7 linked regions of the Homo sapiens genome follow. The protein of the gene in region 1 interacts with the protein of each later gene in a pairwise test. Each region holds a gene or a part of one and is shown in the gene's direction. Other genes may lie near its edges.

Region 1 (5,071 bases):
TCCTTCATATCAACCTCCCAAGCCAGGGTGATACATTTGTTACAATTGAGAATACATGGACACATCATTATCACCCAATGTCCGTAGTTTAGGATTCATTCCTGTTGCTGCACATTCTGTGGTTTTAATATTTAAAAATGTATAATGACATATGTTTACCACCATAGAATCATCCAGAATTGTTTTACTGCCTTAAAAGTTCTCTGTGCCTGATCTATTTATCTCTCACTCTCCCCAACCTTTGGAAACCACTGAACTTTGTACTGTTTCCATACTTTTGCCTTTTCCAGAATGTCATATAGATGGAATTATGCAATGTATAGACTTTTCAAATTGGCTTCTTTCACTTTGTAATATGTATCTAAGTTTCATCCATGTCTCTTTGTGGCTTGATAGTTCATTCCCTTTTAGTGCTGAATAATATTTTATTCTGTTAATTTATCCACTCTCCTTCTGAAGGACATATTGCTTGCTTCCCAGTTTGGGCAATTATGAATAAAGCTACTATAAACATTTGTGTGCAGGTTTTTTTTGTGGACATACCGTTTTCAACTCATCTGGCTAAATAACAAGGAGCGCACTTGCTAGATCATATGATGAAAGTATGCATAGCTTTGTAAGAAACTTACAAACTGTCTTCAAAAGTGGCTGTATCATTTTTCATGTCCATCAGCAATGACAGTGTGCTCCTGTTGCTCCACATCCTCATCAGTATTTGGGGTTATCAGGGTTTTTGATTTTGACCATTCTTATAGGTATGTAGTGGTATCACATTATTGTTTTAATTTGCAAGTCTCTAATGATATGTGATGTTGACCATCATTTCATGTACGTATTTGCCTTCCATATATATTATTTGTTGAGGTGCCTGTTTAGATCTTTTGTCCATTTTTAATAGGGTTGGTCAGTTCTTATTGTTCAGTTTTAAGACATTTTTGTATGTTTTGGTTAACAGTCCCTTATCAGATATGTCTTTTGAAAATAATTTTTTCCCAACCTGGGAGTTATCTTATTCTCTTTGTGGTATCTTTAGCAGAGCAGAAGTTTTAATTTAGCGAAGTCCAGATTATCAATTATTTTCTTTCATAGATGCCCATCACATTTTATACCAGAACTAGAAAAGATGAAATTCTTGGTCTGAAGTTGCAGTTATCAGTCAGCAGAAGAGACAGTCCACAACCCTGCTTGGAGTCCAGATGAGGATCCTGAGTGCAAACTTGGGACCTAAAGAGCCCAGGACAGAGAGAGCACTAAATGCTTCTAGGCAGGGGTGGTGGGTTGAGGGGCCCCTAGACTTCCCTCATCTGGGTCCCAGAAAACTAAAGAGTCAATTTCACAACACCAATAGAGGGAGGCTCAGGCCCTGCCAAGAGCTGACATGACAATTCTAAAGGTAATCAGAGTGGATCCTCTCCAAGCCAGAACACAGAAAGCCCCACTGCGAGCCTTGTTGTCACCCAGTCAGCCCCAGGCAGGGTTGGCAAGCTGCAGCCTAAGGCACATTGTAACTTCCTCAGCTGGCTTCTCAGGGGACAGAATGACTAAGAACAATAGCCCAGTGAATACTTAGAGCAGTGTTCTCAAGGAATCCTGCAGAGGCGGCTTCTGAAAAGCCAAGGTAGTATCTGCCTGCTGAAGGTGTTCTCAGGATTTCATTTGCTCTTCTCCAGGAACCACATCACCTGCCCTTCTGCCTACACTCCTGCCTGCTGTGCCTAACCACAGCCATCATGCCTCGGGGTCAGAAGAGTAAGCTCCGTGCCCGTGAGAAACGCCAGCGGACCCGTGGTCAGACCCAGGATCTCAAGGTTGGTCAGCCTACTGCAGCAGAGAAAGAAGAGTCTCCTTCCTCTTCCTCATCTGTTTTGAGGGATACTGCCTCCAGCTCCCTTGCTTTTGGCATTCCCCAGGAGCCTCAGAGAGAGCCACCCACCACCTCTGCTGCTGCAGCTATGTCATGCACTGGATCTGATAAAGGCGACGAGAGCCAAGATGAGGAAAATGCAAGTTCCTCCCAGGCCTCAACATCCACTGAGAGATCACTCAAAGATTCTCTAACCAGGAAGACGAAGATGTTAGTGCAGTTCCTGCTGTACAAGTATAAAATGAAAGAGCCCACTACAAAGGCAGAAATGCTGAAGATCATCAGCAAAAAGTACAAGGAGCACTTCCCTGAGATCTTCAGGAAAGTCTCTCAGCGCACGGAGCTGGTCTTTGGCCTTGCCTTGAAGGAGGTCAACCCCACCACTCACTCCTACATCCTCGTCAGCATGCTAGGCCCCAACGATGGAAACCAGAGCAGTGCCTGGACCCTTCCAAGGAATGGGCTTCTGATGCCTCTACTGAGTGTGATCTTCTTAAATGGCAACTGTGCCCGTGAAGAGGAAATCTGGGAATTCCTGAATATGCTGGGGATCTATGATGGAAAGAGGCACCTTATCTTTGGGGAACCCCGAAAGCTCATCACCCAAGATCTGGTACAGGAAAAATATCTGGAATACCAGCAGGTGCCCAACAGTGATCCCCCACGCTATCAATTCCTGTGGGGTCCAAGAGCTCATGCAGAAACCAGCAAGATGAAAGTCCTGGAGTTTTTGGCCAAGGTGAATGACACCACCCCCAATAACTTCCCACTGCTTTATGAAGAGGCTTTGAGAGATGAAGAAGAGAGAGCTGGAGCCCGGCCCAGAGTTGCAGCCAGGCGTGGCACTACAGCCATGACTAGTGCGTATTCCAGGGCCACATCCAGTAGCTCTTCCCAACCCATGTGAGATCTAAGGCAAATTGTTCACTTTGTGGTTGAAAGACCTGCTGCTTTCTCTGTTCCTGTGATGCATGAATAACTCATTGATTTATCTCTTTGTTGTATTTTCCATGATGTTTCTTAAAATAGAAAGTTTATTTAGATTCAGAATATAAATTTAGAAATGGCATGCATCACACATTTATTGCTGTTTATCAGGTTGGTTTAGTGATAATAATTTTGTTTTTGAAATACAAATAGAAAATCCTGAAATAATTTTTGTGATACAGAGCAAAATAACACGGCATGGGAGTAAGGTTATCCTTAGAAATTTAAAATAACTCCACAGTAAAATAGGTAGAATCTGAAGATAGAAAGGGAAGAAAAGTAAAAGTTGCTTTATTCGTGGTTTGTCTTACTCAGTTCAGTCTTTTTTTGCTCATAAATTTAAAAGTTACATACCTGGTTTGCTTAGATTATTCAAGAATGTGGAGGCCTGGGCCAAGGTCAATGACAGTGTCTCCATTGTCTTCCCTCCATTAAGAGAAGACTTTAAGAGATGAGGGAGAGAGAGCCAGAGACAGTGTTGCAACTGGGCCTGGCATGTTTCAGTGTGGTGTCCAGCAGTGTCTCCCACTCCTTGTGAAGTCTGAGGTATATTCTTTACTTTTGATTAAGAAAACACTTAACCTTCTAATTAATGGAGAGCCAAAGGGGAGTTGGTGGGAACACCATGTATAACATATTTGTATGTAAAATGATTTATCTTTTCTTTTTCCTGTTTTTCAGTGTTCTTTTTTTAAATTGTAGATTTATTTAGTTTCAGAATCTAAGTTTATGAATGGCATGAATCACTCATTTATTAAAATATATCAGGTTGGAGAGTGAGAATTTTTGCATTATGTAAAACAATTTAAAAATCTTTTAAGTCTTTTTCTGTGATCTAGAACAAGATAATATGGCATTGGAATATGGAATTTGTGAAAAGGAAATTACCTTGCAATAAAGTTGGTGGGACCAGGAAGTAGAGAAAAAAAAAGTAAAATGTGGTCAATTCTTGCTTTGTTTTATTCTTTTTAGTCTTTCTTTGTAAAACTGAAGTATATGTACCCGGATCTGCTTAGCTTTTTCAGGAATGTGGGGGAAATTAAATAGCAATACATTTGACTTCCTGGTCACTTACACTTCAATTGTCCAAATATTAATTGAGCAGCTGTACTTTGGAGGGCTCCTGGCTAGTACCGGATAAGCTAAGAAAACAAAAAACAAACAAACAACAAAAAAACCCCAATCCCTGCCCACAGAATTTTAGAATCCAACAGCAGCTATCATATAACGAAGGTAATGAGATACTCCTTAAGACCTAAAGACAGGTGAAAAGGGGATAAAAAAGAAGGTGGGGGTATTACCAGCAGTGGAATCTAGTGTAAATGTCCTAAGCAAGGTAACTGAGACTTCGGGAAACTGAACATACTGCAATAGGAGGTAATTTTATGTCCTGGCATAGTGCCTATATGGGGCGCACTGAGCAGGGGTCACACACTCAGATGGTGGATCTCACACTTGAGAGATGGAGACTGGAATGAAAAATTGCCTTTAACAGTTACTTTGGGATTGTGGAAAAACCAGAGGGGATCTTTGCCTGGAGCAGGGATTGAAAGTGGCCGGTGCTCTTGTCCCAGTGCAAGTGAAGTGAATCCAGTACACAAACTAGGTGTTTTATGAGCGTAGTCCCCAGGGTGTTTCTGAGAAATAAAGGTGATACTCCTTTAAGACTGGAAACTCATAAGCCACTGGGCTAATACTCTGCTATCAGCTGGGGAGCCAGAACCCATTCCATTAAAAGGAATTTTTTTTCCTTTCATGTGTTTTTGCAAATTCTAAGGGAGATCTAGATTTTTGATGGTGGTAAAATGAATGAAAATAAGACTGGTTTGGATGAAAGGTCAGAGTTGGTCCTTGAACCAAAGCCTAGAAGGTTTGAGTTGCTTTCAGCTGAGAAAGACAACTCCACACTCAAAATATGATTTAATATGGAAAAGTTATTTAGAGTTTCTTTGTAAGCTGCGTTTTGGGCTGATTTTATTGTTCCATGTCTTAGAATGCTGTATATTCTTTGTTATCTCTTGGACTTAAAGAAAATCAGCAGGGTGGATGATTTCTTCTGTAGTTGAAATAATCTTAGTAATAACAAGTATTGTTTAAAGTCTCAATGCACACCAGGGCTTTGCACACTTTCACCACATTCCACCAGTCCTACAAGACAAGGCTTATCAAGCTCATTTCACAGATGTAGAGCCTGAGGCTCATAGAGTTTATTAATGTGCC
Region 2 (4,522 bases), on another chromosome or scaffold:
CTATTTATCATGACACCTTCAGGTGTGTAATTTGATTTGCCATGAATGTATACATTAATTTTTAAATAATTTTACATTTAACATTTGGGATGTGGAATGGATTTATTTTGTATCTAAGTACATGAATTAAGTAATAAACAGTAATTATTGGCAGGAGCGTCTAGAGTTTAAAATTGTGTTTCTTTACAATATTTCATTTTTTAAAATATATTTTTCCATATTAATCTGTGAAAAAATATATTAATGAAAAACTGACGCAAAGGAAATATTTTAAAATAATATTTTTTATTTCAGTTATACAAATACTTGGCTAGATATAGTTTTTATTTTGACATGTTAGAAGGATAGTTTTGAGGTAAAAGTAATTCTTTATTAAATATTTTTTTCTTCCATTTTTGTTTTGTTTTGTATTTTTGAGTTGGGGTCTTGCTCTGTTGCGCAGGCTGGAATGCAGTGGTATGATCATGGCTCACTACAACCTCTTACCTTCTCAGCTCAAGAAGTCCTTCCTCCTCAGCCTCCTGAGTAGCTGGTACTACAGGCATGTACCACGATGCCCAGCTAATTTTTTTTTTTTTAATGTTTTTGTAGAGATGGGGGTGTCAACTATGTTGGCCAGGCAGGTCTTGAACTTCTGGCCTCAGCTGATCCTGTCACCACCACCTCCCAAAGTATTGGGATTACAGGCATGAGCGACTGTGCCTGGCCCCTTTTCTTCCCTTTTTAAAACCTAATTTGAATTTCATAATATCTAGACTTACATTAATATAACACATATGCCTAATTCTATCACTTCTTTTTTTTTTGAGACGGAGTTTTGCTCTTGTTGCCCAGGCTGGAGTGCAGTGGCGTGATCTCAGCTCACCTCACCCTCCACCTCCCGGGATTCTGCTACCTCAGCCTGCCGAGTAGCTGGGACTACAGGCATGTGTCACCATGCCCGGCTAATCTTGTATTTTTAGTAGAGGCGGGGTTTCTCCATGTTGGTCAGGCTGGTCTCGAACTCCCTACGTCAGGTGGTCCGTCTGCCTCAGCCTCCCAAAGTGCTGGGATTACAGGTGTGAGCCGCCGCACCCGGCCTCTATCAGCTTTTTTATGTTTGCAGGCTTTTTGTTTTTGCTTTATTCCACTAGGTTTCCCAGATTTAGAAGAAATCTTTCATTGTCCACTTCCTCTATTTCCTTTAGATATTCTTATTTCTATTTTTTTTTTACATTTTTCTCAGTAACTAAAACTGTCTGCACATAGAAAAGAACCTGTCTAAGTTGTCATTGAACAAACCAAATGATGTTTGTGATCATTTACTTCATATAAATGTGACATTGCGTTAAACAATTAGATTGTTGGCTTTCACATTAGCTCCAATTTTGAGTTTAAATGGAAGACATCAGGAAAATAAATACCAAGGAAAACAGAACTATCTGACTTTATCAGTTATTGCCTCTTTTCCCAGATTTTTTCTTAATTTATAGCTCTTCTTTTTTTACTTTTAAGATAACTATCTCTGGGTTTCAGATGTTGCTGTTGCTAAAAAGGCGCTCTCAAGCATACACTGCGTCAGATGATATTTTTTATTATAATGTAGATTATCAAAACTTAAGCATATACTTAAAATGTTTCATAATTATAGCTGACTTTGTTTCTACAAAGGTGAAATACTAATGTTATATGTTTCTTTTTAATTTTCAAGTTATATAGATTCCTTGCTGTTCCTCATCTGTGCTTATCAGAATAACAAAGAACTCTTGTCTAAAGGCTTATACAGAGGACATGATGAAGAATTGATATCACATTATAGAAGAGAATGTTTGCTAGTAAGTTGAATGCATATAGTATGATCTTATCATTTTGTCTGACATTGGGCAAGTTTTCCAGACTCATATATAAGTGATTGACTCCATAAACTCTGAGGGGATAAGAACATGATGATGTCTATAAACTGGTTCTAGTCCCTTCAGATGGAAAAGTACACTCAGTACTTTATTCTTTTCTCTTTATGAATCCCAAGTACTATAGGTGATAAATGAGAAATGTTCTTAAAATAGCATCAGTTTGTTTACATTTCTGTATTTAGATTTCGTCATCACACTACCACTCCTTTTTTTGGTGGGAGAGGAAGGGATGCATAGATAAGCCTTAAAAAATGTTTTATGTAAGTCTATAAGAATATGCAGGCTGGCGCAGCAGCTCATGCCTGTAATCCTAGCACTTTGGAAGGCTGAGGCTGGTGGATCACAAAGTCAGGAGATCGAGACCATCCTGGCCAACGTGGTGAAACCCCATCTCGACTAAAATACACAAACACAAAAATTAGCTGGATATGGTGGTGTGCGCCTGTAGTCTCAACTACTCAGGAGGCTGAGGCAGGGGAATCGCATGAACCTGGGAAGTGGAGGTTGCCTTGAGCCAAGATCGCGCCACTGCATTCCATCCTGGCAACCAGGTGACAGAGCAAGACTCTGTCTCAAAAAAACAAGAATATACATAGAATGTATTAGAGTAATTTGTTTAACTTAAAAAATTGAATTTTCAGGTACAAGAATAGTATAGCTGACTTTAAACATACATAGAACCAAAACCTGATGGTTCCTCTGAAACCTTCAAAAAATGGTATAATGTTTCTCATCATTTTTTGTAGTAACCCAGCCACATTTGGTTATTTGTTTTACATAGGAATTGAAATGAAACCTCGTCAAGATTACTTTAGTGTTCCTTTCAGATTTTTTCACGTTGTATATTTACAAAGTGTCAGGTTCTGAGGGATACAAACATGAGTAAGATGTACTTCCTGTCCTCAGAAAACTCAGTCTGGTAGGAGACATAATTGTTTGTTCTGGAATAAGTGCCATTATGAGAAATATGCACAATGATATGCCTGAAATATTTGGGAAGAACCTTAAGAGACAAGGTAAACCTCGTCTGGATCTTGATGGATAAATAGAAGTTTTATTCATGATAGAGAAGGGAGAATATTCCAGTACACAACAGAAAATCAAGATAAATTCACTGTGGCTATCCAGGTTATGAGGAAGTGGGGTAAGGTGGAAGTGATGAAGCTGACAATACTTGTCGATGTCAGATGATGAAGAAACTTAGATGACATTCAAATGAGTTTGCACCAGTGTAAGTTTGATTAGGTTTGGCATAATGAGGTTTGTTTTCAGAAAATAATTCTGGTAATAATAATAGCATTCTAGAGGATGAACAGGAAAGAAGTAGATTGAAGTCAAGAACCTTAGAGGGGAAAGTCAAGGGACGGAGAGTGAGGACCTCAACTCATGTAGTACGGTAGGTATGATGGTGAAGGAAATGAAATCGGCATGTCATAGCTGTTGGGTGAGTGGGAAGAAGGAAATGGAAGAGTCAAAGCTGCCAAACTTACTAGTTTTTCGTTTAATATTAGGGAGTCTAATAGGAGGAACAAGGTTGGCTTTGAACATGTTTTATTTAAGAGATTTCCAGGACATTCTTTGATTCAGTGAACTTAACATTAAACTTGTCATTAAATTTTATATATCATTTAATGCATACTTCCAAAAATTGTAGTAAATACTTGAAGATTTATCTCATTTTATTCTCTTAACCCCTATGGTTGGAAGATAAAATACCCTATTATTAATATAAAGAAAGTGAAGCTAACAGATTTAGCTAATCTGTTCACGATTGGTGTATTAGTCCGTTCTCACACTGCTATAAAGATACTACACAAGACTGGGTAATTTATAAAGGAAAGAGGTTTAACTGACTCACAGTTCCACATGGTTGGGGAGGCCTCAGGAAACTTAAAATGATGGCGGAAGGTGAAGGGGAAGCAAGGACCTTCATCACATGGTGGCAGGAGAGAGAAGTGCAAGCAGAGGAAATGCCAGATGCTTATGAAACCATCAGATCTCATGAGACTCACTCCCTGTCACAAGAACAGCACTGGGGAAACTGTCCCTATGATCTGATCACCTCCCACCAGGTCTCTTCCTCAACACCTGGGGGTTACAATTCAAGATAAGATTTGGGTGGAGACACAAAGCCTAACCATATCAATTGGGTAATTGATTCATGGCCAAGTTGGACTTAATAGCACAACCATCTTTCCAAAATCAAAATAAATTGCATAAGAATTATGTGGTGTAAATCTAAATATATAACTTTTTTTATTTGAAATTCAGCTTAAAAGTCATGTTTATCATGCTGTAAACATAAGATTTTAAATAAGAACCCTTAAATATTATAGGTCTTATACCTGTATTTATCTCTTATGTTTCTTATTGCATGGATTTCTCTGTTCTACTAGATCAGTGATCAGCACACTATGGCTTGTGCTCCACCTACCACTTGTTTTTATAGATAAGTTTTATTGAAACATAGCCATGCACATTCATTTATATATTGGGTATTATTGTCTTTGTACTACAATGGCAGAGTTGAATAGTTGCAACAGAAACTTCATGGCCTTCAAAGCCTATAATAGTCCTCGTCTGGCCCTTCACAGAAAAAGTTTGCCAATCCTTGTACCAAATTGTAAGCT
Region 3 (4,522 bases), on another chromosome or scaffold:
GGGTGAGTGTGTTGCCGTCCGAGACATCTGGCCCACTCGGGATCCCAGAGGACCGGGAAACTCCAGACCCCTGTTGCCCTGCAGAGATTGTGGGGTCTGCGTGGGAGGCTCTGTGGTCACCCAGACCTGGGTTCAAATCCCACCGCCATGTCTCCAAGCAGAGGATCCCTGAGCCTCAGTTGTCCTCAACCATGAAATGGGACCGCCCTGGTGCCCCCTTCTCTGACACCTGTTGGTGCCCACCTTAACCTCCTGAACTCGATTCATCCCTCCTTGAGTGCCATGGGTTGGGGGGGTACTGTTACCCACACTGTTTTGCAGGTAGGGAACCTGAGGTCCAGAGAAGTTGTGGCTTGGGCGTTGCTGTTGAGTTGTGTGATGGGGGGAGGGTTAGCCCAGGGCCCGTATACAACAGGCGCTCAATCTCCAGTCTGGCCTGAGATGGGAGGATACCTAGATACCTGGAGGCCAGGCTGGGCCGCTCCAACAGGGACTCAGGCAGCGACTGGAACTTAGAACCCACCTGACTGGGGCCCGGAGCCCGCTGGCCAATCACAGGCCAGGAACGCCCATTCCCCCACCCTGCTTGTGAAGCAATAATCCAAGATCTCCTGGGGCAGACAGTCTGGCCACAGCGTGTTTCTCTGTGGCCCCGTGCGGGGCGACCTTGCTACCCAGGCCCACAGTAGGCTGTATGCGAAGAGCCTGCGCCTCTGCCTCCAAGAAGGCCTCCAGGTCTGCATCCTGCATGAGATGGACATGAGAGCTGATCCCCAGGGCCTTCATGGGGAAGGAAGGAGGGGGCTTGAGGAGCTCAGGCCTGCTCTGACTGTGCCTTTTTTCCCCCTCAGGTTTCTGCAAATGCGTGAATGAGCCGGATGCCAGCCTCTGTCCCCTGGAGCCCAGCGTGAGGAAGAGGCATGCCCCATCAGCCTTCAGCTTGAGCCCGGCGGCCCCCGCCCCCGCCCCCTGCCACCCTGCACTGCCCCGGCTCCCCCGCGGCCCCCACGCTGCAGTGCGGCCGGGCCCCCTCCCCGCAGGGGCCGCCCCCGCCGCCCACCCCTAGCGCCCGTGGTGGTGGTGGTGGTGGTGGTGGTGGTGGCCCGGGCCGCAGGGCCATGAAACTACAGGCCGTGATGGAGACGCTGTTGCAGCGGCAGCAGCGGGCGCGCCAGGAGCTGGAGGCCCGGCAGCAGCTGCCCCCCGATCCCCCTGCTGCACCCCCCGGCCGGGCCCGGGCTGCCCCCGACGAGGACAGAGAGCCCGAGAGTGCCCGGATGCAGCGGGCTCAGATGGCCGCACTGGCAGCCATGCGGGCTGCAGCTGCGGGCCTGGGACACCCAGCCAGCCCCGGCGGCTCTGAGGATGGGCCCCCAGGCTCGGAGGAGGAGGACGCGGCCCGGGAGGGGACACCGGGCTCACCCGGGCGAGGCAGAGAAGGGCCAGGAGAGGAGCACTTTGAGGACATGGCCTCCGACGAGGACATGTGAGTTGGGGTCTGGGGCAGGGCCTTCTGGGGGCTGTTACTGGCTCTGAGTGTCACTCTGCTCATCTGCAGAATGGGAGTAAGGGTCAGGTCGCGGGATCTCCTTCCTGTAATTCCAGCAGTTTGAGAGGCCGACGTGGGAGGATCACGTGGGCCCAGGGGTTGGAGACCAGCCTGGGCAACATAGCAAGACCCCATCTCCGCAAAAAATTAAAAAATTAGCCAGGCATGGTGGTGCACCTGTGGTCCCAGCTACTGGGGAGGCTGAGGCAGGAGGATCCCTTGAGAACAGAAGTTGAGTTGTGATTGTGCCACTGCACTCCAGCCTGGATGACAGAGATAGACCCAGTCTCAAAAGAAAAATGGTTTTTTTAGCCGGGTGCTGTGGCTTACGCCCGTAATCCCAGCACTTTGGGAGGTCGAGGTGGGTGGATCACCTGAGGTCAGGAGCTCAAGACCAGCCCGGCCAACATGGCGAAACCCCATCTCTACTAAAAATACAAAAATTAGCCAGGCGTGGTGGCAGAAGCCTGTAAACCCAGCTACTCGGGAGGCTGAGGCAGGAGAATGGCTTGAACCTGGGAGGTGAAGATTGCAGTGAGCCAAGAATGTGGGTTTTTTTTTTTTTTTTAGACAGAGTCTTGCTCTTTTCGCCCAGGCTGGAGTGCAGTGGCGTGATCTCAGCTCACTGCAACCTCCTCCTCCCGGGTTCACACCATTCTCCTGCCTCAGCCTCCCGAGTAGTTGGGACTACAGGCGCCCGCCACCACGCCTGGCTAACTTTTTGTATTTTTAGTAGAGACGGGGTTTCACCATGTTAGCCAAGATGGTCTCGATCTCCTGACCTCATGATCTGCCTGCCTTGGCCTCCCAAAGTGCTGGGATTACAGGCGTGAGCCACCACACCCGGCCAACTTTGTTTCATCTTAGTTAACTTAAAGCAACCTAGCCACCGATGGCTACAGCAGATTCAGCGGCAGGGGCAGATAAAATCTGCAGCCGGCTGGACCTGCATAGCGTGTGGGTCCCCCCAGGGCTGGCTGAGGGCTCACTTGCTGTGGGATCCTGGCCTCCAGGAACCCGCATCTTCCTGGGAGGACCTGAGCAAGCAAAGATGCTGGGCGCAGTGGCTCACGCCTGTAATCCCAGCACTTTGGGAGGCCGAGGTGGGAGGATTGCTTGAGCCCAGGAGTTCAAGACCAGCCTGGGCAACCTAGTGAGGCCCCATTTCTACAAAAAGTACAAAAATTAGTCGGGTGTTGTGGCATGCATCTGTGGTCCCAGCTACTCGAGAGGCCGAGGCGGAAGGACTGCTTGAGCTCAGGAGGTCAAGACTGCACTGAGCTGTGATCACACCACTGCACTCCAGCCTGGGCAACAGAGAAGACCCTGTCTCAAAAAACAAAACTGGCCGGGTGCAGTGGCTCATGCCTGTAATCCCAGCTACTCAGGAGGCTGAGGAGGAGAATCGCTTGAACCTGGGAGGCAGAGGTTGCAGTGAGCCGAGATCGTGCCTTTGCACTCCAGCCTGGGCAACAAAGTGAGACTGTGTCTCAAAAAAAAAAAAAAAACAACCAAACAAAACCTAGCAGCAAAGAAGCAGGTGATATCAGGTTGTACAAACAGCTGCCAATGGCTGGGCGTGGTGGCTCACGCCTGTAATCCCAGCACTTTGGGAGGCCGAGGTGGGCGGATCACGAGGTCAGGAGATCGAGACCATCCTGGCTCACACGGTGAAACCCCGTCTCCACTAAAAATACAAAAAAATTAGCCAGGCGTGGTGGCGGGCGCCTGTAGTCCCAGCTACTTGGGAGGCTGAGGCAGGAGAATGGCATGAACCCGGGAGGCGGAGCTTGCAGTGAGCCGAGATTGCGCCGTTGCACTCCAGCCTGGACGACAGAGCGAGACTCCCTCTCAAAAAAAAGACAAAAAAAAAAAAACGGCTGCCAAGAAAGTCTAGGAGGGTGCCGTGGAGGGGCAGTGGCGAGGGTGGGGCGGATTTCAGATGGCGGTGGGAGAATTCTCCCTGTGGAGGGAAGGGGAGGTGGAGCTGGGACAGCATGCATGGTGCAGGATGCAGGAACCAGCCTGCCGTAATGATTCCCTTTTTTTTTTTCCCAAGAGAGTCTTGCTCTGTGGCCCAGGCTGGAGTGCAGTGGTGCCATCATAGCTCACTACAGCCTCCATCTCCTGGGCTCAAGGGATCCTCCCGCCTTGGCCTCCCAGAGTGCTGCCGGGATTATAGGTGTGCGCCACCGTGGCTGCCTGCGTGATGCTTTTCAAGGCCCCAAAATTCACGCTGTAGGGACGGCTTGTGCTGTTCTGGGCTAATTGGAAACAAAGTGGGCGTCACGGGTGCCCCACGCTGTGCTCATGAGCGCTCTCTGCAGTCTGAGCTGGCGGCGGCCGGCTCTTCCTATTTCCAGAGAGGGAAACTGAGGCTGGGCGGGGAGTGGGTCTTTCCTTGGGCTGGGACGAGCCAGCACCTTCTCCCCTGACTCCTGCCCTCTGCTCACCCCAGGAAGCCCAAATGGGAGGAGGAGGAGATGGAGGAAGACCTCGGGGAGGATGAGGAGGAGGAGGAGGAGGATTACGAGGATGAGGAGGAGGAGGAGGACGAGGAGGGGCTGGGCCCCCCAGGCCCTGCCAGCTTGGGCACCACGGCACTGTTCCCCCGAAAGGCCCAGCCACCCCAGGCCTTCCGCGGCGATGGCGTTCCCAGGGTGCTGGGGGGCCAGGAGCGGCCGGGGCCTGGCCCTGCCCACCCCGGAGGGGCCGCCCACGTAGCCCCGCAGCTGCAGCCGCCTGACCACGGCGACTGGACTTACGAGGAGCAGTTTAAGCAGGTGAGTGGGCGCGTCCCGCGTGGCGGCTGAGGCACCTGCTCCTGGGCCAGTGGGGCCCTTTGAAGGCCCACGTTGCACGGGGTGTGTGCTGAGCCGGGCGTCGAGTTGAGAGCTGGGGGTTCCTGCGGTAGCTGTGCTTCCTGTGCTTCCCTCCTGGGCGTGGGCTCGACCAGCTGGCTGTTCATTGCTC
Region 4 (4,522 bases), on another chromosome or scaffold:
GTTCCAGGCAAAGAGCAAAATTGGTCATGGATTCAGTCTCCATGGAGTAAATACTCCAAAGGACAGAATTAAAGGGGCCAGTAGGGAGACTGGAAGTGGGGGAGTCTGGACTAAGTCTAGACTAAGGGGGTGTGTTGCAGAGAATGCTCAGCCAAGTTCTTTTGGAATGAGAACAGGAGAACATTAGAGTTGGGGATATGTATGTGGGGCAGGAATTTTCATCGGTTTCTGTGTCATGGACCATGTTGGTAGTTTCATGAAACTTATGGACTCCTTCCCAGAATACTGTTTTTAAATACAAAAAATAAGAAGTAAATGAGATTACAAAGGAAATCAGTTGTATTGAAGTAATAGCTACCAAAATACTAAACTAAATTTGTGATATATAAGAAAATACATTTTAATATAGGTAAAAAGTTGGGGATAATTGATTTAACTTGAATTAAAACCAAATTCCCATTAAAGTACATGGACCATTCCCAAGATCATGGACCCTAAGTTAAGAACTCCCAGCCTACGGAGATGGTTGAGAACCATAAGGTTGAAGGAGGTGAGAAGGTGAGTGGCAGGCTTCAGGGGCACATCCTGCTTAAGGATGGTGGTGGAAGGGGTTGTTTGGGGGCTAAGTTTCTTTTAGAATGTTTGTGGTAGTCAGGGTCCAGTCCAGGTGGTTTTTGGAAAGGTCTTTCCAGGTTTTTGGAAAGGGCCTGAGAGCTAGCTGATGGGAATAAGCTATTTTTGAATTTACTTTGGGGGAGCCATTTTAACTATGTTACTTGAGAAATAGTCAATTATATTCTGAAAATATTTAATATTTGGTTTTCCATGTTTGAGTGTTGACTAATGGTTGGGCTCATGGAGTTAAGATATAGTGAGAATTTTCATGGTTAATGGTAATCTTGGCCAATAAAGTCTAGTTGAACTGAATTTCCACGTAGGAGTTTTTAAATTTTTTATTTTTTTCTTTTCTTTTGAGACAGACTTTCTCTCTGTTGCCCAGGGGAGTGATCATGGCTCACTGCAGCCTTGACCTCCCTGGCTCAAGTGATCCTCTCACCTTTCAGCCTCCCCAGTAGCTGGGACTACTGGTGCATGCCACTAATGCCTAGCTAATATTTTGGGGTTTTTTGTAGAGGCAGAGTTTCATTATGTTGCCCAGGCTGGTCTTGAATTCCTGAGCTCAAATGATCCTCCTGCCTTGGCCTCACACAGTGCTGGGATTACAGGTGTGAGCCACTGCACCAAGCTGCAGTTTCAGAATAGGGAGTCAGGTAACTGTGCTGGGTATGCAGGGTTTTTGAAATATTATTTCTTTAATAGCAATAGCAGTTAGTTGTCTGCATATATGATGTAGATAACATTATCATTAAACCTTACTCTTTGAGAAGAAGAAGAAGGGGCTGGAAGACCTGTTGCTTCACACCCCACTGTGGCTGGAAGGCTACCTTTGGGATAATCGTCCAGGTTGGTGACATCAGGGAACAGGCTCACTGTGGGTTCCCACGGTATTCTCTTTGGGGTTTTTTTTTTTTTTTTTTTTTTTTGGCAGAGTCTCTCTCTGTCACCCTGGCTGGAGTGCAGTGGCGCGTTCTCAGCTCATTTCAACTTCCTCCTCCCGGGTTCAAGTGATTCTCATGCCTCAGCCTTCCAAATAGCTGAGACTACAGCTAATTTTTGTAGTAGTATTTTTAGTAGAGACAGGGTTTCATCATGTTGGCCAGGCTGGTCTCAAACTGCTGAGCCGAAGCAATCCACCCGCCTCGGCCTCCCAGAGTTGGTGGGATCACAGGCGTGAGCCATTGTGCCTGGCCTTGAATTCTGTTTGTTACTCGCAGATGCTCAACTGTGATTTTAGAATTCTGTGTATGTATTTTTATTTAGCTCCACAAACTAGATATGACTGAAATGTGAGGTTAAATTAAATCTTTGCAACATTTGTTGCTATTTAGCATTTTAAAAAGAATAAAAAAATAACAAAAGAAAGTTCTAGCCTTCTTTGGTTTGTTGTTTTCTTGCTTAGAGGCCTGTGCAGTAGTGCTCCCATCTCACTCCTGTCAGGCTGAGCTTCAGAGGTTGGCAGTCTGTGTTTAAACTTGCAGATGCCAAATGCTTTTTTAAAAACTCAAGAGTGGTAACAAATGGAGAGGAAGAAAGGGCTTGAGGTCAGTGGGAACTAACCCTTTAAATACCGTGCTTTTTTTAAGTCCAAGTTAGGGTACTTGAAACTTGTGGTGTGGGAGAAGAGTATTTGCAGTTTCCCTTTATCAGCTGTGATTCTCTGCTTCTAAAGAATGTTTTTATTGTGTGCACGATGGTTAGTCTACTGAGGTTTTCTGTCCTCTCTCCTCTTCCTGTGATGTGTCTATGAACAACACCCTTTTCCATACATTTTTATGTGCATCTTTGAGTATTTCCTTGTGATAAATTCTTAAAGAGAATTACTGAATCAGAGGATAAAACATTTTTGTGACTGTTACTGAAAACTTATTCTGGTATATACTTTCATTGGTAAGGAAATAATACCAGTGTATTTTAAGATTAAAGAAAACCTTGAGTTATTGGGAAATTTTGCTGATTTCTTTTAAATACTGTTGTTTTCTGCTTCCACTTATGATACATGAGATGAGAGGAAGGTTTCTTTTGTATTTAAGGTGTCTCAACAAGCAGCAAAGTGTATTCCAGCAATGGTGTGTCCTGAACTGACAGAACAAATCCGGAGAGAGATAGCTGCCTCTCTTCATCAGAGAAAGGGGGATTTTGCTTGCTATTTTCTGACTGACCTTGTAACATTTACATTGCCAGCAGGTAACTCCAAAATCTAACGTAAAAAGACTTTTTTATTTTATTATAGTTACATTTGTGTATGTAGGTGAAAAATGTTTCTGTTAGAAAGCACATAACATAGCTACTGTATGTGCATCTTAAATTACTTGACTGTCTTATATATGCTGGAAGTGAGCATACAGAGGATTACTTGTTAGGAAATGCGTCTGCTATCTGAGAGGAAGACAGCAGTTGATAGTAACGGATTTCTTTGTGGACCTCAGATTATTTTTTAAAAATCTGTTGTACTCTTTTATTTTTCTCTTTGGTTTTATTTTAGAATATCCTTTAAAAAAATCTCCTTTGAAAAATTTTCCCTTTTCATGCTTGTGTGTTATTTGAAATTAGATAGCTATATTGGTTACCTGGTATTAAGAGATGGGATTAGAACATGAGCTTTTGATGGGTAGAGTCAGGTTATTTGAATTGAACACACTGCATCCTCTTGAATATGTCATTCCTTTTTTACTCATTTATTTCTACTATGTTTGTGAAGGAACTTTTCATTTTTCAATTCATTGACAGTTGAAAACATCCTCCAGAATGCGTTTTGTCAGTTGGCATTGAATAAATACACCAAACACCAAACGTTTCTAAAATCTTTCATCTGAGATTCTGAGATCTGTTTGTTTTGTTGCTGTTTTTTTTTTTTTTAGATTGAAACGGGGTCTTGCTCTGTTGCCCAGGCTAGAGTGCAATGGGCGTGATCATAGCTTACTGCGCCTTCAACTTCTGGGCTCAAGTGATCTCCTGCCTTGACCTCCTGAGTAGCTAGGACTATAGGCACATGCCACCCACCCCTGGCTAATTTTTAATTTTTTTGTAGAGATGGAGTCTCGCAGTATTACTCAGGCTAGATCTCAGTGTTTTTAATTTTTATGTTCAGACAAACGGATTTTTACAAATTGTAGGAGATAGTAACTAAGTTTTCTGAAACTGGAGGAAGTTTCATTTGAAATGCACTTGTTCTGAGTATTTAAGCTTACCCCAGAATGATTAGATTTTTAAAAATTTATTTTTTATTTTTATTTTTTGAGACAGGGTCTTACTCTATCGCCTAGGCTGGAGTGCGGTGGCAGGATCACGGCTCATTGCAGCCTTGGCCTCCCCAGGCTCAAACAGTTCTCTCACCGTAGCCTCCTGAGTAGCTGGGACACAGGTGTCTGCTGCCTTGTCTGATTAATTTTTGTATATTTTTTGTATAGAGACAGGGTTTTGCCGTGTTGCCCAGGCTGGGCTCAGAATCCTGAGTTCAAGCAGTATGCTGGCCTCAGCCTCCCAAAGTGCTGGAATTATAGGCGTGAGCCATTGCACCCGGCCCAGAAAAGAAATATTTTATATCACACATGTTACACTGGTATATTAAGAAAAAGCTATCTGATAACCTTCAATGGAAAGGGAGTTATTTTAGAGAAAGTTACTAGTAGGTAATTAATAAGTGTAATTAAGTATAAGTTAAGTGTAAGTTATGAAACAAAAGATCTTTTAAGTTTGCATTTTCTTTGTAGATATTGAAGATTTGCCCCCAACAGTCCAAGAAAAATTATTTGATGAGGTGCTTGATAGAGACGTTCAAAAAGGTAAGCATGGAATTAATGAGTATAATTTACCTTTCATCTGATCAAGTAAGTTTTGTTTAGTAAGGCATGGTGTAGTTTGGTGTGTAGTCAACTTGCTTTATTTTTATTTTAAATTAAAG
Region 5 (4,522 bases), on another chromosome or scaffold:
CTTCTCCCAACCCTGCCTGGGCTCTCAACCAAAATGTAATGAGGCAGGTACGATTGTTCCCATTTGCATTTGACAAGAAGGGACTCACAGAGGGGCCCAAGGCCACGTGAGTGCCACAGGGAAACAGGATTTGAATCCAGCAGGCTGCCTCCCTCTAGTGCAACCCCAAGACTGACCTGGCTCTGATCTCAAGGCAGTTCAACTCCAAGTTCAAAAGGAAGGGGGACGAGGGCTCAGCTGTGCAATTGGCCTGAGAGCCTCAGAGGTCAGTGGTCCAAGGCTGGAGACTTGCAGAGTAGAGGACAAAGGGCGGTGGAGCAGGGGCTGCTCCAGGCCTTGGTCATCACAACAGCTGCCAGGAGGCCACAGATGTAGCAGAAAGAGCAGAAGCTTCAGAATCAGAATCAGACATACCTGCTTGACTACTCATAAGCCATGTGACTCCGAACAGATCAGTCAACCTCTTGGACCATCAATTTCTTTACCTGTAAAATGGGGATGAGAGTAATACTAAGAGGACCTACCTTTCAGGGCTGAGCATGGGTAAGGGAATGCATGCAAAGTACTGTGCTTGCCACATTATAGGGCTTGATAAATATAAGAAGAAAAGGACATTTCCAAGCAGCTCCCATTTCCCTGGACACCCCGCCCCTGCTCTGCCACCCACAGCAGGGAAATCATGGGATGTTAGGAACTGTGTCCTCATCCCTGCCCTACTCCATTGCAGGGATGGCAGGGGGAGATTGCAGGGGTAGTGACTGCAGAGGGAGCCTGAGGCTTAGACAGGACTGGAGAGGGGGCACTGCATGGCTTCAGTCCTTCAGCCCCACAGGCTTCCCTTAGTCCCTTCCTCCCAAAGAAGCCAGGCCCCCAAGCCCCTTCCAGGGATCTGCTGCCAATGCCCCCTCCTGCCCAGTGTCTGTGTCAGGCCCATACCCCGCACCTCCCCACCCCACCCCCGCCCAGCTCTGCACTGCCTGGTTCTGGGCAGCTGGTGTGTGGGAGGCCAAGCCGGGAAGGAAAGGGGGGAAGGGGGTATCTGTGTACTGGGAGCCCACCTGGCCACCTGCGCATGCCCACACTCCATGTGCACAGTGCCAACTCACATGCCCTGGTACAGGTGACCCCCATCCCCAAAAGGGACTGAAGGTTGCTCCAGCAATCACAGAAGACAGCTCAGGTGGGGCACACACTGGCTTCTAACACCTAGTTGACCCAGGCCTCGCACACACAGACCCTGAAGGGTGGTCTATGGGGAAGGGGCTCCTGGACCGCCCCCGGCTTGTGCCTCATCTTCCTATTTTTTCAGTCCCTCTCACCCCTTGCTCCCGAAGCTTCCTTTCTCTGGCTGTCACCTCTCCTGTCACCCACTTTGTCAATCAGTCTCCCACCTGTCACCCTTCCTCCCCATCTGCCACCCTCTCACTCCACATGACACGGTACCTCTATGGTCACTGTAGTCTTGCCTGTCTCCCCACTCGCTCTGCCCCCCACCACATCCATGCCCTTCCTGACCTTTCTTCTCTGCCGGTTGCTCCCTGTCTCTCCCTCCATCACCTGTTTCCTCACCTGACACCCCACTGCCCCATCTCCCCACCTCGCCGCCCAGGTTCTCTGTGAAAACGCTGCTGGAGAAGTACACAGCGGAGCCCATCGATGACTCATCGGAGGAGTTTGTCAATTTTGCAGCCATTTTAGAGCAGATCCTCAGCCACCGCTTCAAAGGTGGGCCCAGCGCCCCTCCCCCAGCGGTCCCTCCCCCAGCGCCCCTCCCCCAGTGGTCCCTCCCCCAGCGCCCCTCCCCCAGCGGTCCCTCCCCAACTCCCAACCTTTAGCTCCCAGCCACCTCTTTCTGATATACTCCATGGACTCTGAACCCCCTCATTGACCCTGGCCCCCATTCTGGGCCATGCACAGAAGCTTGTGTACAGATCTGGGAAGAGGGAGAGGCCTTTGGCCTACAATCCCCATCATGGGCAAGCGATATGCTGGGGTGCCCACTGCACACGTGCATGTGTGTGCACAGATCTTTGTGGGAGGAGGCTGCTTATGCTTATGCATGTGAGTGCCTCACTACATGGACCCTCTCCAAACTCCCTGGTCTTGCTGAGCCCCCTCCCTGCCCTGGCTCAGCCTGTGCCCCAGCAGGTCCAGTGAGCTGGTTCAGCTCAGACGGGCAGCGGGGCTTTTGGGACTATATCCGGCTGGCCTGCAGCAAAGTGCCCAACAACTGTGTGAGCAGCATCGAGAACATGGAGAACATCAGCACAGCCCGGGCCAAGGTGAGGGGCCTGAAGCAAGCAACTGCTCTCTGCTCTGGACACAGGGGGCCTGCCTGTTTCTTGGTTTTTGCCCCCTGTGCACAGCCCAGGGGAGAAGGGCCCACACCTGATGCTGGACACATGAGTCCCTCTGGGGCAGCAAGTAAAGGTGAACATGATTTCCAGGGCCGGGCATGGATCCGGGTGGCACTGATGGAGAAGCGCATGTCAGAATACATCACCACGGCTCTGCGTGACACCCGGACCACCAGGTCAGACTTCCCAGGCAACTCAGACCACAGGTCTCAGAGTGCACCTGCATTGCCCAAACACAGCTGATCCTTAAGTTCCTGCAGCATCCTTCAGTTCCTGGACTACAAGTCCCAGCACCAGCACACATGGCTGATTTCCCTCTTCCAGCCTGGCCTGCAGTCCCAGGACGAACTCTTTTTTTTTTTTTTTTTTTTGAGAAGGAGTTTCGCTCTTGTTGCCCAGGCTGGAGTGCGATGGCGCGATCTCGGCTCACTGCAACCTCCGCCTCCTGGGTTCAAGCGATTCTCCTGCCTCAGCCTCCTGAGTAGCTGGGATTACAGGCATACGCCACCATGCCCAGCTAATTTTGTATTTTTAGTTTCTCCATGTTGGTCAGGCTGGTCTCAAACTCCCAACCTCAGGTGATCCTCCCGCCTTGGCCTCCCAAAGTGCTGGGATTACAGGCATGAGCCACCGCTCCTGGCCCCAGGACAAACTTTTACCACCACCACCACCACCACTTGCAAGTCAAATCTAATGCCCATTATTTGCCATCAATGCCCAGCACGCTCCACCCTTGCACACCTCTGGATGAGCCTCAGCCATGCACCATCTCAAGTGTTGGCTTGCTCCATGATCTACAACACAGCCCTTCTGTCTCTCCAAACAACGAAAGCAGTTCTGTACTTGCTATTCACGGACACAGAGTCCTTATATGGGGAGTTCAATCCCTGCACTGTGGGTTCACAGGGAGGTTGGGTGCCTGAGGCAAGGGGTTACAAGGAGGAGTGTGCCTGTGTGGGCAGGTGCATCTGAAGCTGTCTGGGTGTGGCGGGGGGCATATACCTCCCCATCCCAATTGGCCATACCCAGCCTGATGTTTTTACTGAATTCCATTCCTCAGTCTACACGTTTCAAGTTAACACGTTTTTTGCGCACCTACTGTATACCAAGCACTAATGATTAAGACTTGCTTCCTGATATGAAGGATCTGGGTAACCCAGTACTTGATGAGGAAGGGGTAGCTCAGAGGGAGGAGTCGGCTCAGGGAACACCCATTCTAGGTGATGGGGCCACAGGTGCGAGCCCCAGGCTGAAGGGGGAGAGAGGCTCCAGGCCTGCGTGCAGATCAGGAAGGAGAATTGGCCTTCCTTCAGGATGGGGTGGCAGTAAGCCAACAATAGCAGCTCTGGGGGGGGGGGGGGCGCTCCAGGGGCCTGCTGCATCCTCTGGCCCTCTGCCTCCCCACAGACGGTTCTATGACTCTGGAGCCATCATGCTGCGGGATGAAGCCACCATCCTCACCGGAATGCTGATCGGACTGAGCGCCATCGACTTCAGGTGGGGTCTGCCTGACGGCAGTGGTGGAGGGGGCTGTTTCCCCCATAAATGTCCTACCCCAACCCCTCACACCCACCTCCAACCCTGTGGCTCCTCTGCCTCAGCTTCTGTCTAAAGGGGGAAGTCCTGGACGGGAAGACCCCCGTGGTCATCGATTACACGCCCTACCTAAAGTTCACGCAGAGGTGAGCGGCTCCATGACTGCGGCGGGGCGGGGGACGGGGCCTCGGGACATCCTGGGGACGTCCTGGTCCCACCGCCCTCAGCGGCCAGCGCAGACGCGCGGGGGGAGGGGCGGGACCGGCCGTGCCCACTGCTCCCTCTCCCAAGCTACGACTACCTGACGGACGAGGAGGAGCGGCACAGCGCCGAGAGCAGCACGAGCGAGGACAACTCGCCCGAGCACCCGTACCTCCCGCTCGTCACCGATGAGGACAGCTGGTACAGCAAGTGGCACAAGATGGAGCAGAAGTTCCGCATCGTCTACGCGCAGAAGGTGCGCGACGCCGGCGGGCCCGGGGGGCGGGCGGGCCGGGCGGGGGATCCGGGCATCCCGGGGCGGGGCGGGGATGGGGGCCGCGGCCGGGACGTCCTCCCAGCCGCCCGGGCTGAGCCGGCGCCCCGCAGGGCTACCTGGAGGAGCTGGTGCGTCTGCGCGAGTCGCAGCT
Region 6 (3,513 bases), on another chromosome or scaffold:
GCAAATAGATTGTAAATGAATACAAAATAAGTCACTGAGAAGCATTTAACATAATTTAAAAATCAACAAGAAATTTGTCCAAATATTTAATAACATATTAATTTAAACGAGGGTTAGCAAGCATGTTACTACTTTTTTGAAACAAAAATCAGTTCTCCCATTTACTAGCTTCATAGCCACTGTTGACAATCCTATTATTTATTTTTCAGCCTTCCCTTTGAAAGATGCTTAGCAAAAATCAACTAAGTAACAACCAAAGATCTCATTCTCTTTAACATCTTCCAGGATCACAAATTTCAATTATTCTCTGCCTGAGTTATCACAATTCAAACTGGAGAATGAAGAGTAAACACAAGCAAAAGAAGATAAAATCTATTAAAAGATCGAGAGACACCAGACACAAATGGGTTAAAAGAAGAAGAAGAATTAAAGGTTATACTGTTTTGATTACACACATAGAGGCTAGGAAGAAGAAAATGAATTGAGATTACCTGTTAGAAATAGGCGGTTTCTGGTTTCTGGGAGCTGTCCAATGTACTGAGTGAACCATCATAACCACAACTTACCCCCTTAATAGGGACTGACGTCCTGGGCAGTTCTCTTTTGAACCGGGATGTTTCTACATTCATCTTTTTAGGCTATTTCTTCCAATCTACCTTTAAAATTATCTTCTAATCTGTCACTTTGACACAATGGGTCTTTTAAATAAATCTTTACACAGTACTGAATAATTAAGTAAATATAGTTATTGGCAAACAAAGAAAAAGAACCTTTTTGTTAAAATATTTGGGATACTCGAGATAATATAAAATGAGTAATCTCTTATTTTTCTTATGCCAAATTTAAAATCTCTTTCTTTTCTCAAAAATAACGATCTAACGATAGCCAAAAACTCCCTTAAATATATTTCAATAAATCATTGTTTCTGCACTTAAGTCTTACTGTAGGACAATACAAATCAATGAGGAAAATACGCCAGATGGAAGTGTTAGGTTTTTTTCTTTGTTCGGGAACAAATACTCGATCCGCAATTTAAAAGTCCGAAGACTCCTCAGCAGAGGGTGAGCTGATTGACTCTTTGGCTTATCAAGGGCAAATCGCATTTCTGAAAAGAGCTTGAAGTGGTTTTGTTTGTGAGGAGAGTTTGCTTTGTCCCCCACACTGAAAAGTATACAGCAAAGCCCGAGCATAGAAAATATCCTGAGCTTAAATTTCTCATTTTATTGCCATCATAACTTTTCCTCTTGGAATAAAATCCTCTATTTTATATGAGTAGGAGGTAAAGGTAGGGAAAGGAAAGTCAAGTATCTCAATTGTTACGCTGATTGCATCCAAACAGACTTTAGAAGTCAGGGTTTGTAACGTGGCAGGAGAGCTGTTTGCGATGCCCTGGAAAGAAAAGAAAGCCGGTTCCAACAGCGACTCTGGGGAATGCACTCTCGGTCCCCCTGCCATGCTTACTTAAGCTAATTGAAGGTCTTGCCTTTCAGCAGCCGCTGCACTGGGATACCAGACAAACAGCTCCCCTTGATGCCAGGCAGGCAGGGCCCCTCTTCAGGACATCATTAAAAGCACATGCACTTGCTCCACATCCATTGGCAGATGGTGGCAAGATTCAAGACTCCTACCCTGAAGTCAAGGAGAAGCCATCGCGGTGGAAAACATCCTCGCTTTGAAAATCCAACACGAAATTAAAGAACTACACGAGATAAGGAGCCTGGAGAACATTAGTTGGCTGCAGGGGTGAAGACAGACACAAAAAGCACAGCAGGTAAGAGCTGGGGGTTGTTGCCAACAAGGAACTGTCCCGGGTGGCGCAGAGAAAAGGATCTCAGAACTGGAGCCCTGTCCCTTTGAGTCTTCCATGCGTGCTCAAGCTTGTCATCTTCCATAAGCTTCGAGAGAAGGGACGTTGTCAGAGCATTCCTTATCGGTGCGACTAATCCTGTTATCAGCTTGGTTATAAATATTTAATGTTCCCTGGCCTTTCGGTGATGGTGCCCCATCAGATTCAAGGCTGTTAAGAATCCCCACCAGCAACCTCGCCCCTCCCTGCGGAAAACCGATGAGAGGCAGGGCCAAGCCGAAGCGATGGCGGCCTATCCGGAGAGCTGCGTGGACACTACGGTGCTGGACTTCGTCGCAGACCTGTCCCTGGCCTCCCCGAGACGCCCTCTCCTCTGCGACTTCGCACCCGGGGTCTCCTTGGGGGACCCAGCCCTTGCGCTCCGAGAGGGAAGACCCAGGAGGATGGCGCGGTTTGAAGAGGGGGACCCAGAAGAAGAGGAGTGCGAAGTGGACCAGGGGGACGGAGAAGAGGAGGAGGAAGAGGAGCGCGGAAGAGGTGTCTCCCTATTAGGCCGCCCCAAGAGGAAAAGGGTGATCACCTACGCCCAGCGCCAGGCCGCCAACATCCGCGAAAGGAAGCGGATGTTCAACCTCAACGAGGCCTTTGACCAGCTGCGGAGGAAGGTGCCCACGTTTGCTTACGAGAAAAGGCTGTCCCGGATCGAGACCCTCCGCCTGGCCATCGTCTATATCTCCTTCATGACCGAGCTCTTGGAGAGCTGTGAGAAGAAGGAAAGCGGCTGAGCCTGGTGTGGAGAGTCTGCCCTTCCTCGTCTGGTAGTGCTGGGGTGTGTCAGGACCGGGCACTGGGTGAGGCTAAAGGGCCGGGAGGGAGGCCCCAAGACAGAACGTCTGGTCTTCTGGAGGTCGGGGTCGAGATTGTAAGATCCCCACATGCGCTGAGCAGAGTGGCTGCTGTAGAGTTCATATCTACGCGACCGCCCTAAGTGAAGTCGGGGTCAGGGGCGAGCGGGGAAGTCAGAGAGCGTGAGGCTGAGTCGGGGCCGTTCAGGCTGCTCCTAAGAGCTTCCGTGGGCTGGGTGGGTGGGAAGTGAACCCTCCTCGCAAATGGCAGACTTTGGAGCTTCTATAAAATCTAACCTCTCTTCTTTACATTTTTTTTTTCATAGAGATAATAAAGTAGAAATTCTTACGTTTTTAAAAAGCCTGAAGGGTCGGTGGTACGCCATCCCCAGCAGGCGCTCCAGCGGGCGCCTGCGTGGAGGGTCTGAAGCAGACGCCGCAAGGGTGCGGGGGTGCGAGCTTTTCTGCTAGCCAGAGGGTTCTGCCTGGTCCTCCGAGGCTTGTCCAGGAACTGAGGAAAGGAAAAATGGAAGGCAGAGCAGTCGAGAGGAACTGCTGACAAAGTGCGACCTCTGAGAAGGGACACCCTTCCTGTCTTCCATTCCCTCTCCCTCCCGTCCCTTCCTCTCTCCCGCGCGCAAGCCCTCTCTCTTCCTTTCTCCCTCCCCTTCGCCACCTAGTTGATCCCAGACGGACCACAGCTCCTTGTCCCAGGGCCACAGTGGTGTTCATTCAGTGCCTTAGCCAGAGTGCAAATCTACGCTTTGCATCTAAAGTGCAGCATCAGCTTCCGTGTTCCAGTGCCTTCTTCAGGCCCCAGGCCAGAGTAAGGGGCGAGTGCACTCGGGTCACTCCTGGGCC
Region 7 (4,060 bases), on another chromosome or scaffold:
CCAAGCACGGACTTGGCCTAGGTTAATGTCACTTTCTTGTCTTCTGCCTCCCTTAGGGCCTTCCTGCTGTCCCTGGTGGCACCAGTGGCATTGATGGTGGCCAGGTGGGCAGAGCCTGGGACCCAGAGAAGTTAGCCCAGGAACTGGCAGCATCGCTCACCAGGTGTGTGCCTGGGTCCTGGGCTGTGCGGGGGGTGGGCAGGCAGCCTATGTGAGAGCCCCCGGGGGTGTCGTCTGCAGTAGAAGCTAAGGTGTACCCCGGTGTACAGGTGTGTTTACATGACAATACTGTGGGCAGGTGGGTAGGAGGAGACCTGGGAAACAGGATCGGCTGGGGCTGTGAGCCCCCTCTCTTCTCCTTCGCAACAGGACACTGGACCTGCAGGAGCAGCTGCAGTCTCTGCGCAGGGAGCTGGAACAGGTGGCTCAGAAGGGGCGAGCCAGACGGTCTCAGAGTGCCGAGCTGAACAGGGATTTATGCAAAGCCCACAGGTAGGACTGTTCTGCATCCCCCCAATCCCCCTGGCACCATCCCCCACCAGGATATCAGAAGTATCCCTGGCTGTCTCTGGGCCTTAGCATTCCCCACTGCCCCAAGATAGGCAGTAACGGTCAGGTGTGGTGGCTCACACCTGTAATCCCAGCATGTTGGGAGGCTGAGGCCAGCAGATCACTTGAGGTCAGGAGTTTGAGACCAGCCTGGCCAACGTGGTGAAACCCCATCTCTACTAAAAATACAAAAATTAGCTAGGCGTCTTTGCACGTGCCTGTAATTCCAGCTACTTGAGAGACAGGAGAATTGCTTAAACCCAGGAGGTGGAGGTTGTGGTGAGCAGAGATCACACCACTGCACTCCAGCTTGGGTGACAGAGCAAGACTCTGTCTAAAAAAAAAAAAAAAAAAACAACAGGCTGGGCCAGGCGCAGTGGCTCACGCCTGAAATCCCAGCACTTTGGGAGGCCAAGGTGGGCAGATCACCTGAGGTCGGGAGTTCGAGACCAGCCTGACCAACATGGAGAAACCCCATCTCTACTAAAAATACAAAATTAGCCAGGCGTGGTGGCGCATGCCTGTGATCCCAGCTACTCGGTAGGCTGAGGCAGGAGAATCGCTTGAACCCGGGAGGCAGAGGTTGCAGTGAGCCGAGATTGTGCCATTGCACTCCAGCCTGGGCAACAAGAGCGAAACCCCATCTCAAAAAACAACAACAAGAAAAAACAGGCTGGGCATGGTGGCTCACGCCTGTAATCCCAGCACTTTGGGAGGCTGAGGCAGGCGGATCACCTGAGGTCAGGAGTTCAAGACCAGTCTGGGCAACATGGTCAAACCCTGTCTCTATTAAAAAATACAAAAAAATTAGCTGGGCGTGGTGGTGGGCGCCTGTAATCCCAGCTACTTGGGAGGCTAAGGCAGGAGAATCACTTGAACCCTCGAGGCAGAGGTTGTAGTGAGGGGAGATCTTACCATTGCACTCCAGCCTGGGTGACAAGCGCGAAATTCTGTCTCAAACAACAACAACAACAACAACAAAAGACCAGCTAGCTGGGACCCTTGGAGACCCAATGTGAAAGAGCCCCCATTCTGGGAGTGGGAGTACACGGCCCTTGCCTTGGGTGGACTCGGGGGCTGTTTCCTGACCCAGCCACCCACCCCTTCCAGCGCCCTGGTCCTGGCCTTCCGAGGAGCCCACCGGAAGCAGGAAGAGCAACGCCGGAAGTTGGAGCAGCAGATGGCACTCATGGAGGCTCAGCAGGCCGAGGAGGTGGCGGTGCTCGAAGCCACTGCAAGGGCCCTGGGGAAGCCCAGGCCTCCCCTCCCGCCTCCCCAGCTTGGGGACACCTTTCTGTAGGCCCCTTACCCAGCCATGTCTGGACATGCCAGACAGCTGTGGCATGTCATAAACTGTCCTGGAGTGACATCATGTCATGTTGCATGATTTGGCATGTTGGGGCACATTTGGCGTGAGGGAAGCTGGTGCACATGGGTGTCCAGGGCCTGATGGGGTGTGGCCAGGCAATGAAGAAAGACTCAGGTGTCTTTGGCCTGGCACCAAGTGGAATGTGAACTTCATATCAGTGGGGTCAGGCCAGAAGCAACCTGGGCTATGGGACCAGGTCCCTGGGACTGACGCATTTCGGGGGTCCGTGAGGTTGCATAGCCACAGCTGAAGTTCCAACTGGCCTGTCTCCCGAAGCCCAGGGAGGGATTCATGGGGACTGGACAGAGCTTCTCCTGGCAGCCCCTTCCCAGGGAGATGCTGGGTTTGGCTGGCAGATTTTCCTGAAGGGGGCCGGGCTCAGTGGTGCACATCTGTAATCCCAGCATTTTGGGAGGCCAAGGTGGGTAGATCACTTGAGCCCAGGAGTTCAAGACCAGCCTGGGCAACATGGCAAAACCCCATTTCTACAAAAAAATACAAAAATTAGCCAGGCGTGGTGGCATGTGCCTATAAAGATATTTAGGAGGCTAAAGTGGGAGGGTAACTTGAGCTTGGGAAGTGGAGGTTGCAGTGAGCTGAGATCACGCCACTGCACTCCAGTCTGGGTCACAGAGTAAGACCTTGTCTCAAAAAAAAAAACAGGCCAGGCGTGGTGACTCATGCCTGTAATCCCAGCACTTTGGGAGGCTGAGGCGGGGAGGATCACCTGAGGTCAGGAGCTTGAGACCAGCTTGGCCAACATGGTGAAACCCCCGTCTCTACTAAAAATACAAAAATTGGCTGGGTGTTGTGGCACATGCCTGTAATCCCGGCTACTCGGGAGACTGAGGCAGGATAATTGCTTGAACCTGAGAGGCGGGGGTTGCAGTGAACCGAGATCGCGCCAACAACAAGATCGTGCCCGGGCAATAAGAGCAAAACTCTGTCTCTAAATAAATAAATAAAACACAAAACAAAACAAAAAGGAGGGAGACTGAAGCTGGAATGGTTCAGATTCAGGGTGTGGATGACGAGTTGCTACTAACTCAAAGCTAAGGTCAAGGGTTTCTGGACTCCATGTGGTCGAGCTTGCCTGTAATCCCAGTATCTCAGGAGGCCGAGGGAGGAGGACTGCTTGAGCCCAGGGGTTTAAGACCAGCCTAGGCAAAATAGGAGAGTCTGTCTCAAAAATAAATAAATAAAATAAGGTAAAGGGTTTCTGGGTGGGGGACAGGCATAGCAAAGGTAATAGTCTGGGACTCAGGGGGCGTTGTACTTCAAGAGAAACTCAGAATGAATGCCAATGGTGGCCAGTTCCAGCTTTCTCCTGGGGGCCCAGGAGCTGTGGGACGTGTCAGGTTAATAGCAGGCAATGAATTAGCATGTCATTTGCATAAGTCACATCTCCCTGCCCCTCCACACCAGGACTGGCTGAGTCTGGGAAAGGGGAGCTTGGAACGACCCAGCCAAGCTTGGATTAGTGGCCAGCTGTCCCCCTTCAGGGTGGCAGCTGAAACCCGAGACAGGGATTAGAAAGACTTTCATTCCCAGCCTTGGGGGCAGGTGCTCCAGGCCTCACCTGTGCAGGTGTGTTCACCGCCTCTCCCAGGGCAGGACCACGTCAGCCTGAGGTCAGCGCCAGTCAGCGGCCTGGACTTGAATCCAGTCAACCTGACCCCAGAAACAGAACAAGAAGTATGGTGGCGAGCACAGTCCCCTCCAGCGAGGGCTGGGGCTAGTCACCTTCCGACCCACACGCTGTCCCTGGACTTGGGCCAACTTTGAAGAAAGCAGGGAAATGGAGGCAGACCACCTTGCTCGTGTTGGGGTGGGGCAGAGAAGCTGAATTTCTTCCCTGTACCCTGCCGAGCCCCAGAGTCTAAGACCTGAGTTCCTGGTCCCACCAGGTTGCCTGTGGAGGGGCAAAGGGAGCCAAGGTCACATGTGGGAGGACGGAGACAGGTTCCCAGGCTGCCCCAGCAGGATCTGGCCATTCCCACGGGTGCCCCCTCAGCAGATGGGCCTAGGCCCCTTTGTCCCTGGTTTGCGGCCGCCGCAAGGTCAAATGTTACTGCAGGGCCGCGGGCAGGGGTCAGGGAGGCGGGGTAGAGCCTTGATCCACCCCCAGGCGGGCCCCAGGGG

What was found.
Region 2: the proteins of MAGEB4 (region 1) and USP25 interact in binary tests that used the Homo sapiens proteins (3 or more experiments, as listed by UniProt).
Region 3: the proteins of MAGEB4 (region 1) and ARID3A interact in binary tests that used the Homo sapiens proteins (3 or more experiments, as listed by UniProt).
Region 4: the proteins of MAGEB4 (region 1) and ZRANB1 interact in binary tests that used the Homo sapiens proteins (3 or more experiments, as listed by UniProt).
Region 5: the proteins of MAGEB4 (region 1) and RUNDC3A interact in binary tests that used the Homo sapiens proteins (3 or more experiments, as listed by UniProt).
Region 6: the proteins of MAGEB4 (region 1) and FERD3L interact in binary tests that used the Homo sapiens proteins (3 or more experiments, as listed by UniProt).
Region 7: the proteins of MAGEB4 (region 1) and USHBP1 interact in binary tests that used the Homo sapiens proteins (3 or more experiments, as listed by UniProt).

Annotation. Positions count from the first base shown.
Region 1 is NC_000023.11:30,240,406-30,245,476, forward strand, and holds MAGEB4 (melanoma-associated antigen B4), read left to right. Parts: upstream 1-1,594; 5' UTR 1,595-1,730; coding exon 1,731-2,771; 3' UTR 2,772-3,782; downstream 3,783-5,071.
Region 2 is NC_000021.9:15,872,713-15,877,234, forward strand, and holds part of USP25 (ubiquitin carboxyl-terminal hydrolase 25), read left to right. Parts: intron 1-1,690; coding exon 1,691-1,814; intron 1,815-4,522. UniProt on the Homo sapiens protein: Deubiquitinating enzyme that hydrolyzes ubiquitin moieties conjugated to substrates and thus, functions in various biological processes including inflammation and immune response.
Region 3 is NC_000019.10:928,411-932,932, forward strand, and holds part of ARID3A (AT-rich interactive domain-containing protein 3A), read left to right. Parts: intron 1-603; exon of another isoform or gene 604-735; intron 736-851; 5' UTR 852-1,118; coding exon 1,119-1,486; intron 1,487-4,007; coding exon 4,008-4,332; intron 4,333-4,522. UniProt on the Homo sapiens protein: Transcription factor which may be involved in the control of cell cycle progression by the RB1/E2F1 pathway and in B-cell differentiation.
Region 4 is NC_000010.11:124,969,314-124,973,835, forward strand, and holds part of ZRANB1 (ubiquitin thioesterase ZRANB1), read left to right. Parts: intron 1-2,651; coding exon 2,652-2,805; intron 2,806-4,331; coding exon 4,332-4,403; intron 4,404-4,522. UniProt on the Homo sapiens protein: Ubiquitin thioesterase, which specifically hydrolyzes 'Lys-29'-linked and 'Lys-33'-linked diubiquitin. Also cleaves 'Lys-63'-linked chains, but with 40-fold less efficiency compared to 'Lys-29'-linked ones.
Region 5 is NC_000017.11:44,310,971-44,315,492, forward strand, and holds part of RUNDC3A (RUN domain-containing protein 3A), read left to right. Parts: intron 1-1,609; coding exon 1,610-1,725; intron 1,726-2,133; coding exon 2,134-2,282; intron 2,283-2,447; coding exon 2,448-2,533; intron 2,534-3,764; coding exon 3,765-3,854; intron 3,855-3,958; coding exon 3,959-4,039; intron 4,040-4,184; coding exon 4,185-4,350; intron 4,351-4,481; coding exon 4,482-4,522. UniProt on the Homo sapiens protein: May act as an effector of RAP2A in neuronal cells.
Region 6 is NC_000007.14:19,143,941-19,147,453, reverse strand, and holds FERD3L (fer3-like protein), read left to right. Parts: upstream 1-2,032; 5' UTR 2,033-2,091; coding exon 2,092-2,592; 3' UTR 2,593-2,672; downstream 2,673-3,513. UniProt on the Homo sapiens protein: Transcription factor that binds to the E-box and functions as inhibitor of transcription. DNA binding requires dimerization with an E protein. Inhibits transcription activation by ASCL1/MASH1 by sequestering E proteins.
Region 7 is NC_000019.10:17,248,014-17,252,073, reverse strand, and holds the end of USHBP1 (harmonin-binding protein USHBP1), read left to right. Parts: intron 1-56; coding exon 57-163; intron 164-369; coding exon 370-492; intron 493-1,659; coding exon 1,660-1,849; 3' UTR 1,850-2,903; downstream 2,904-4,060.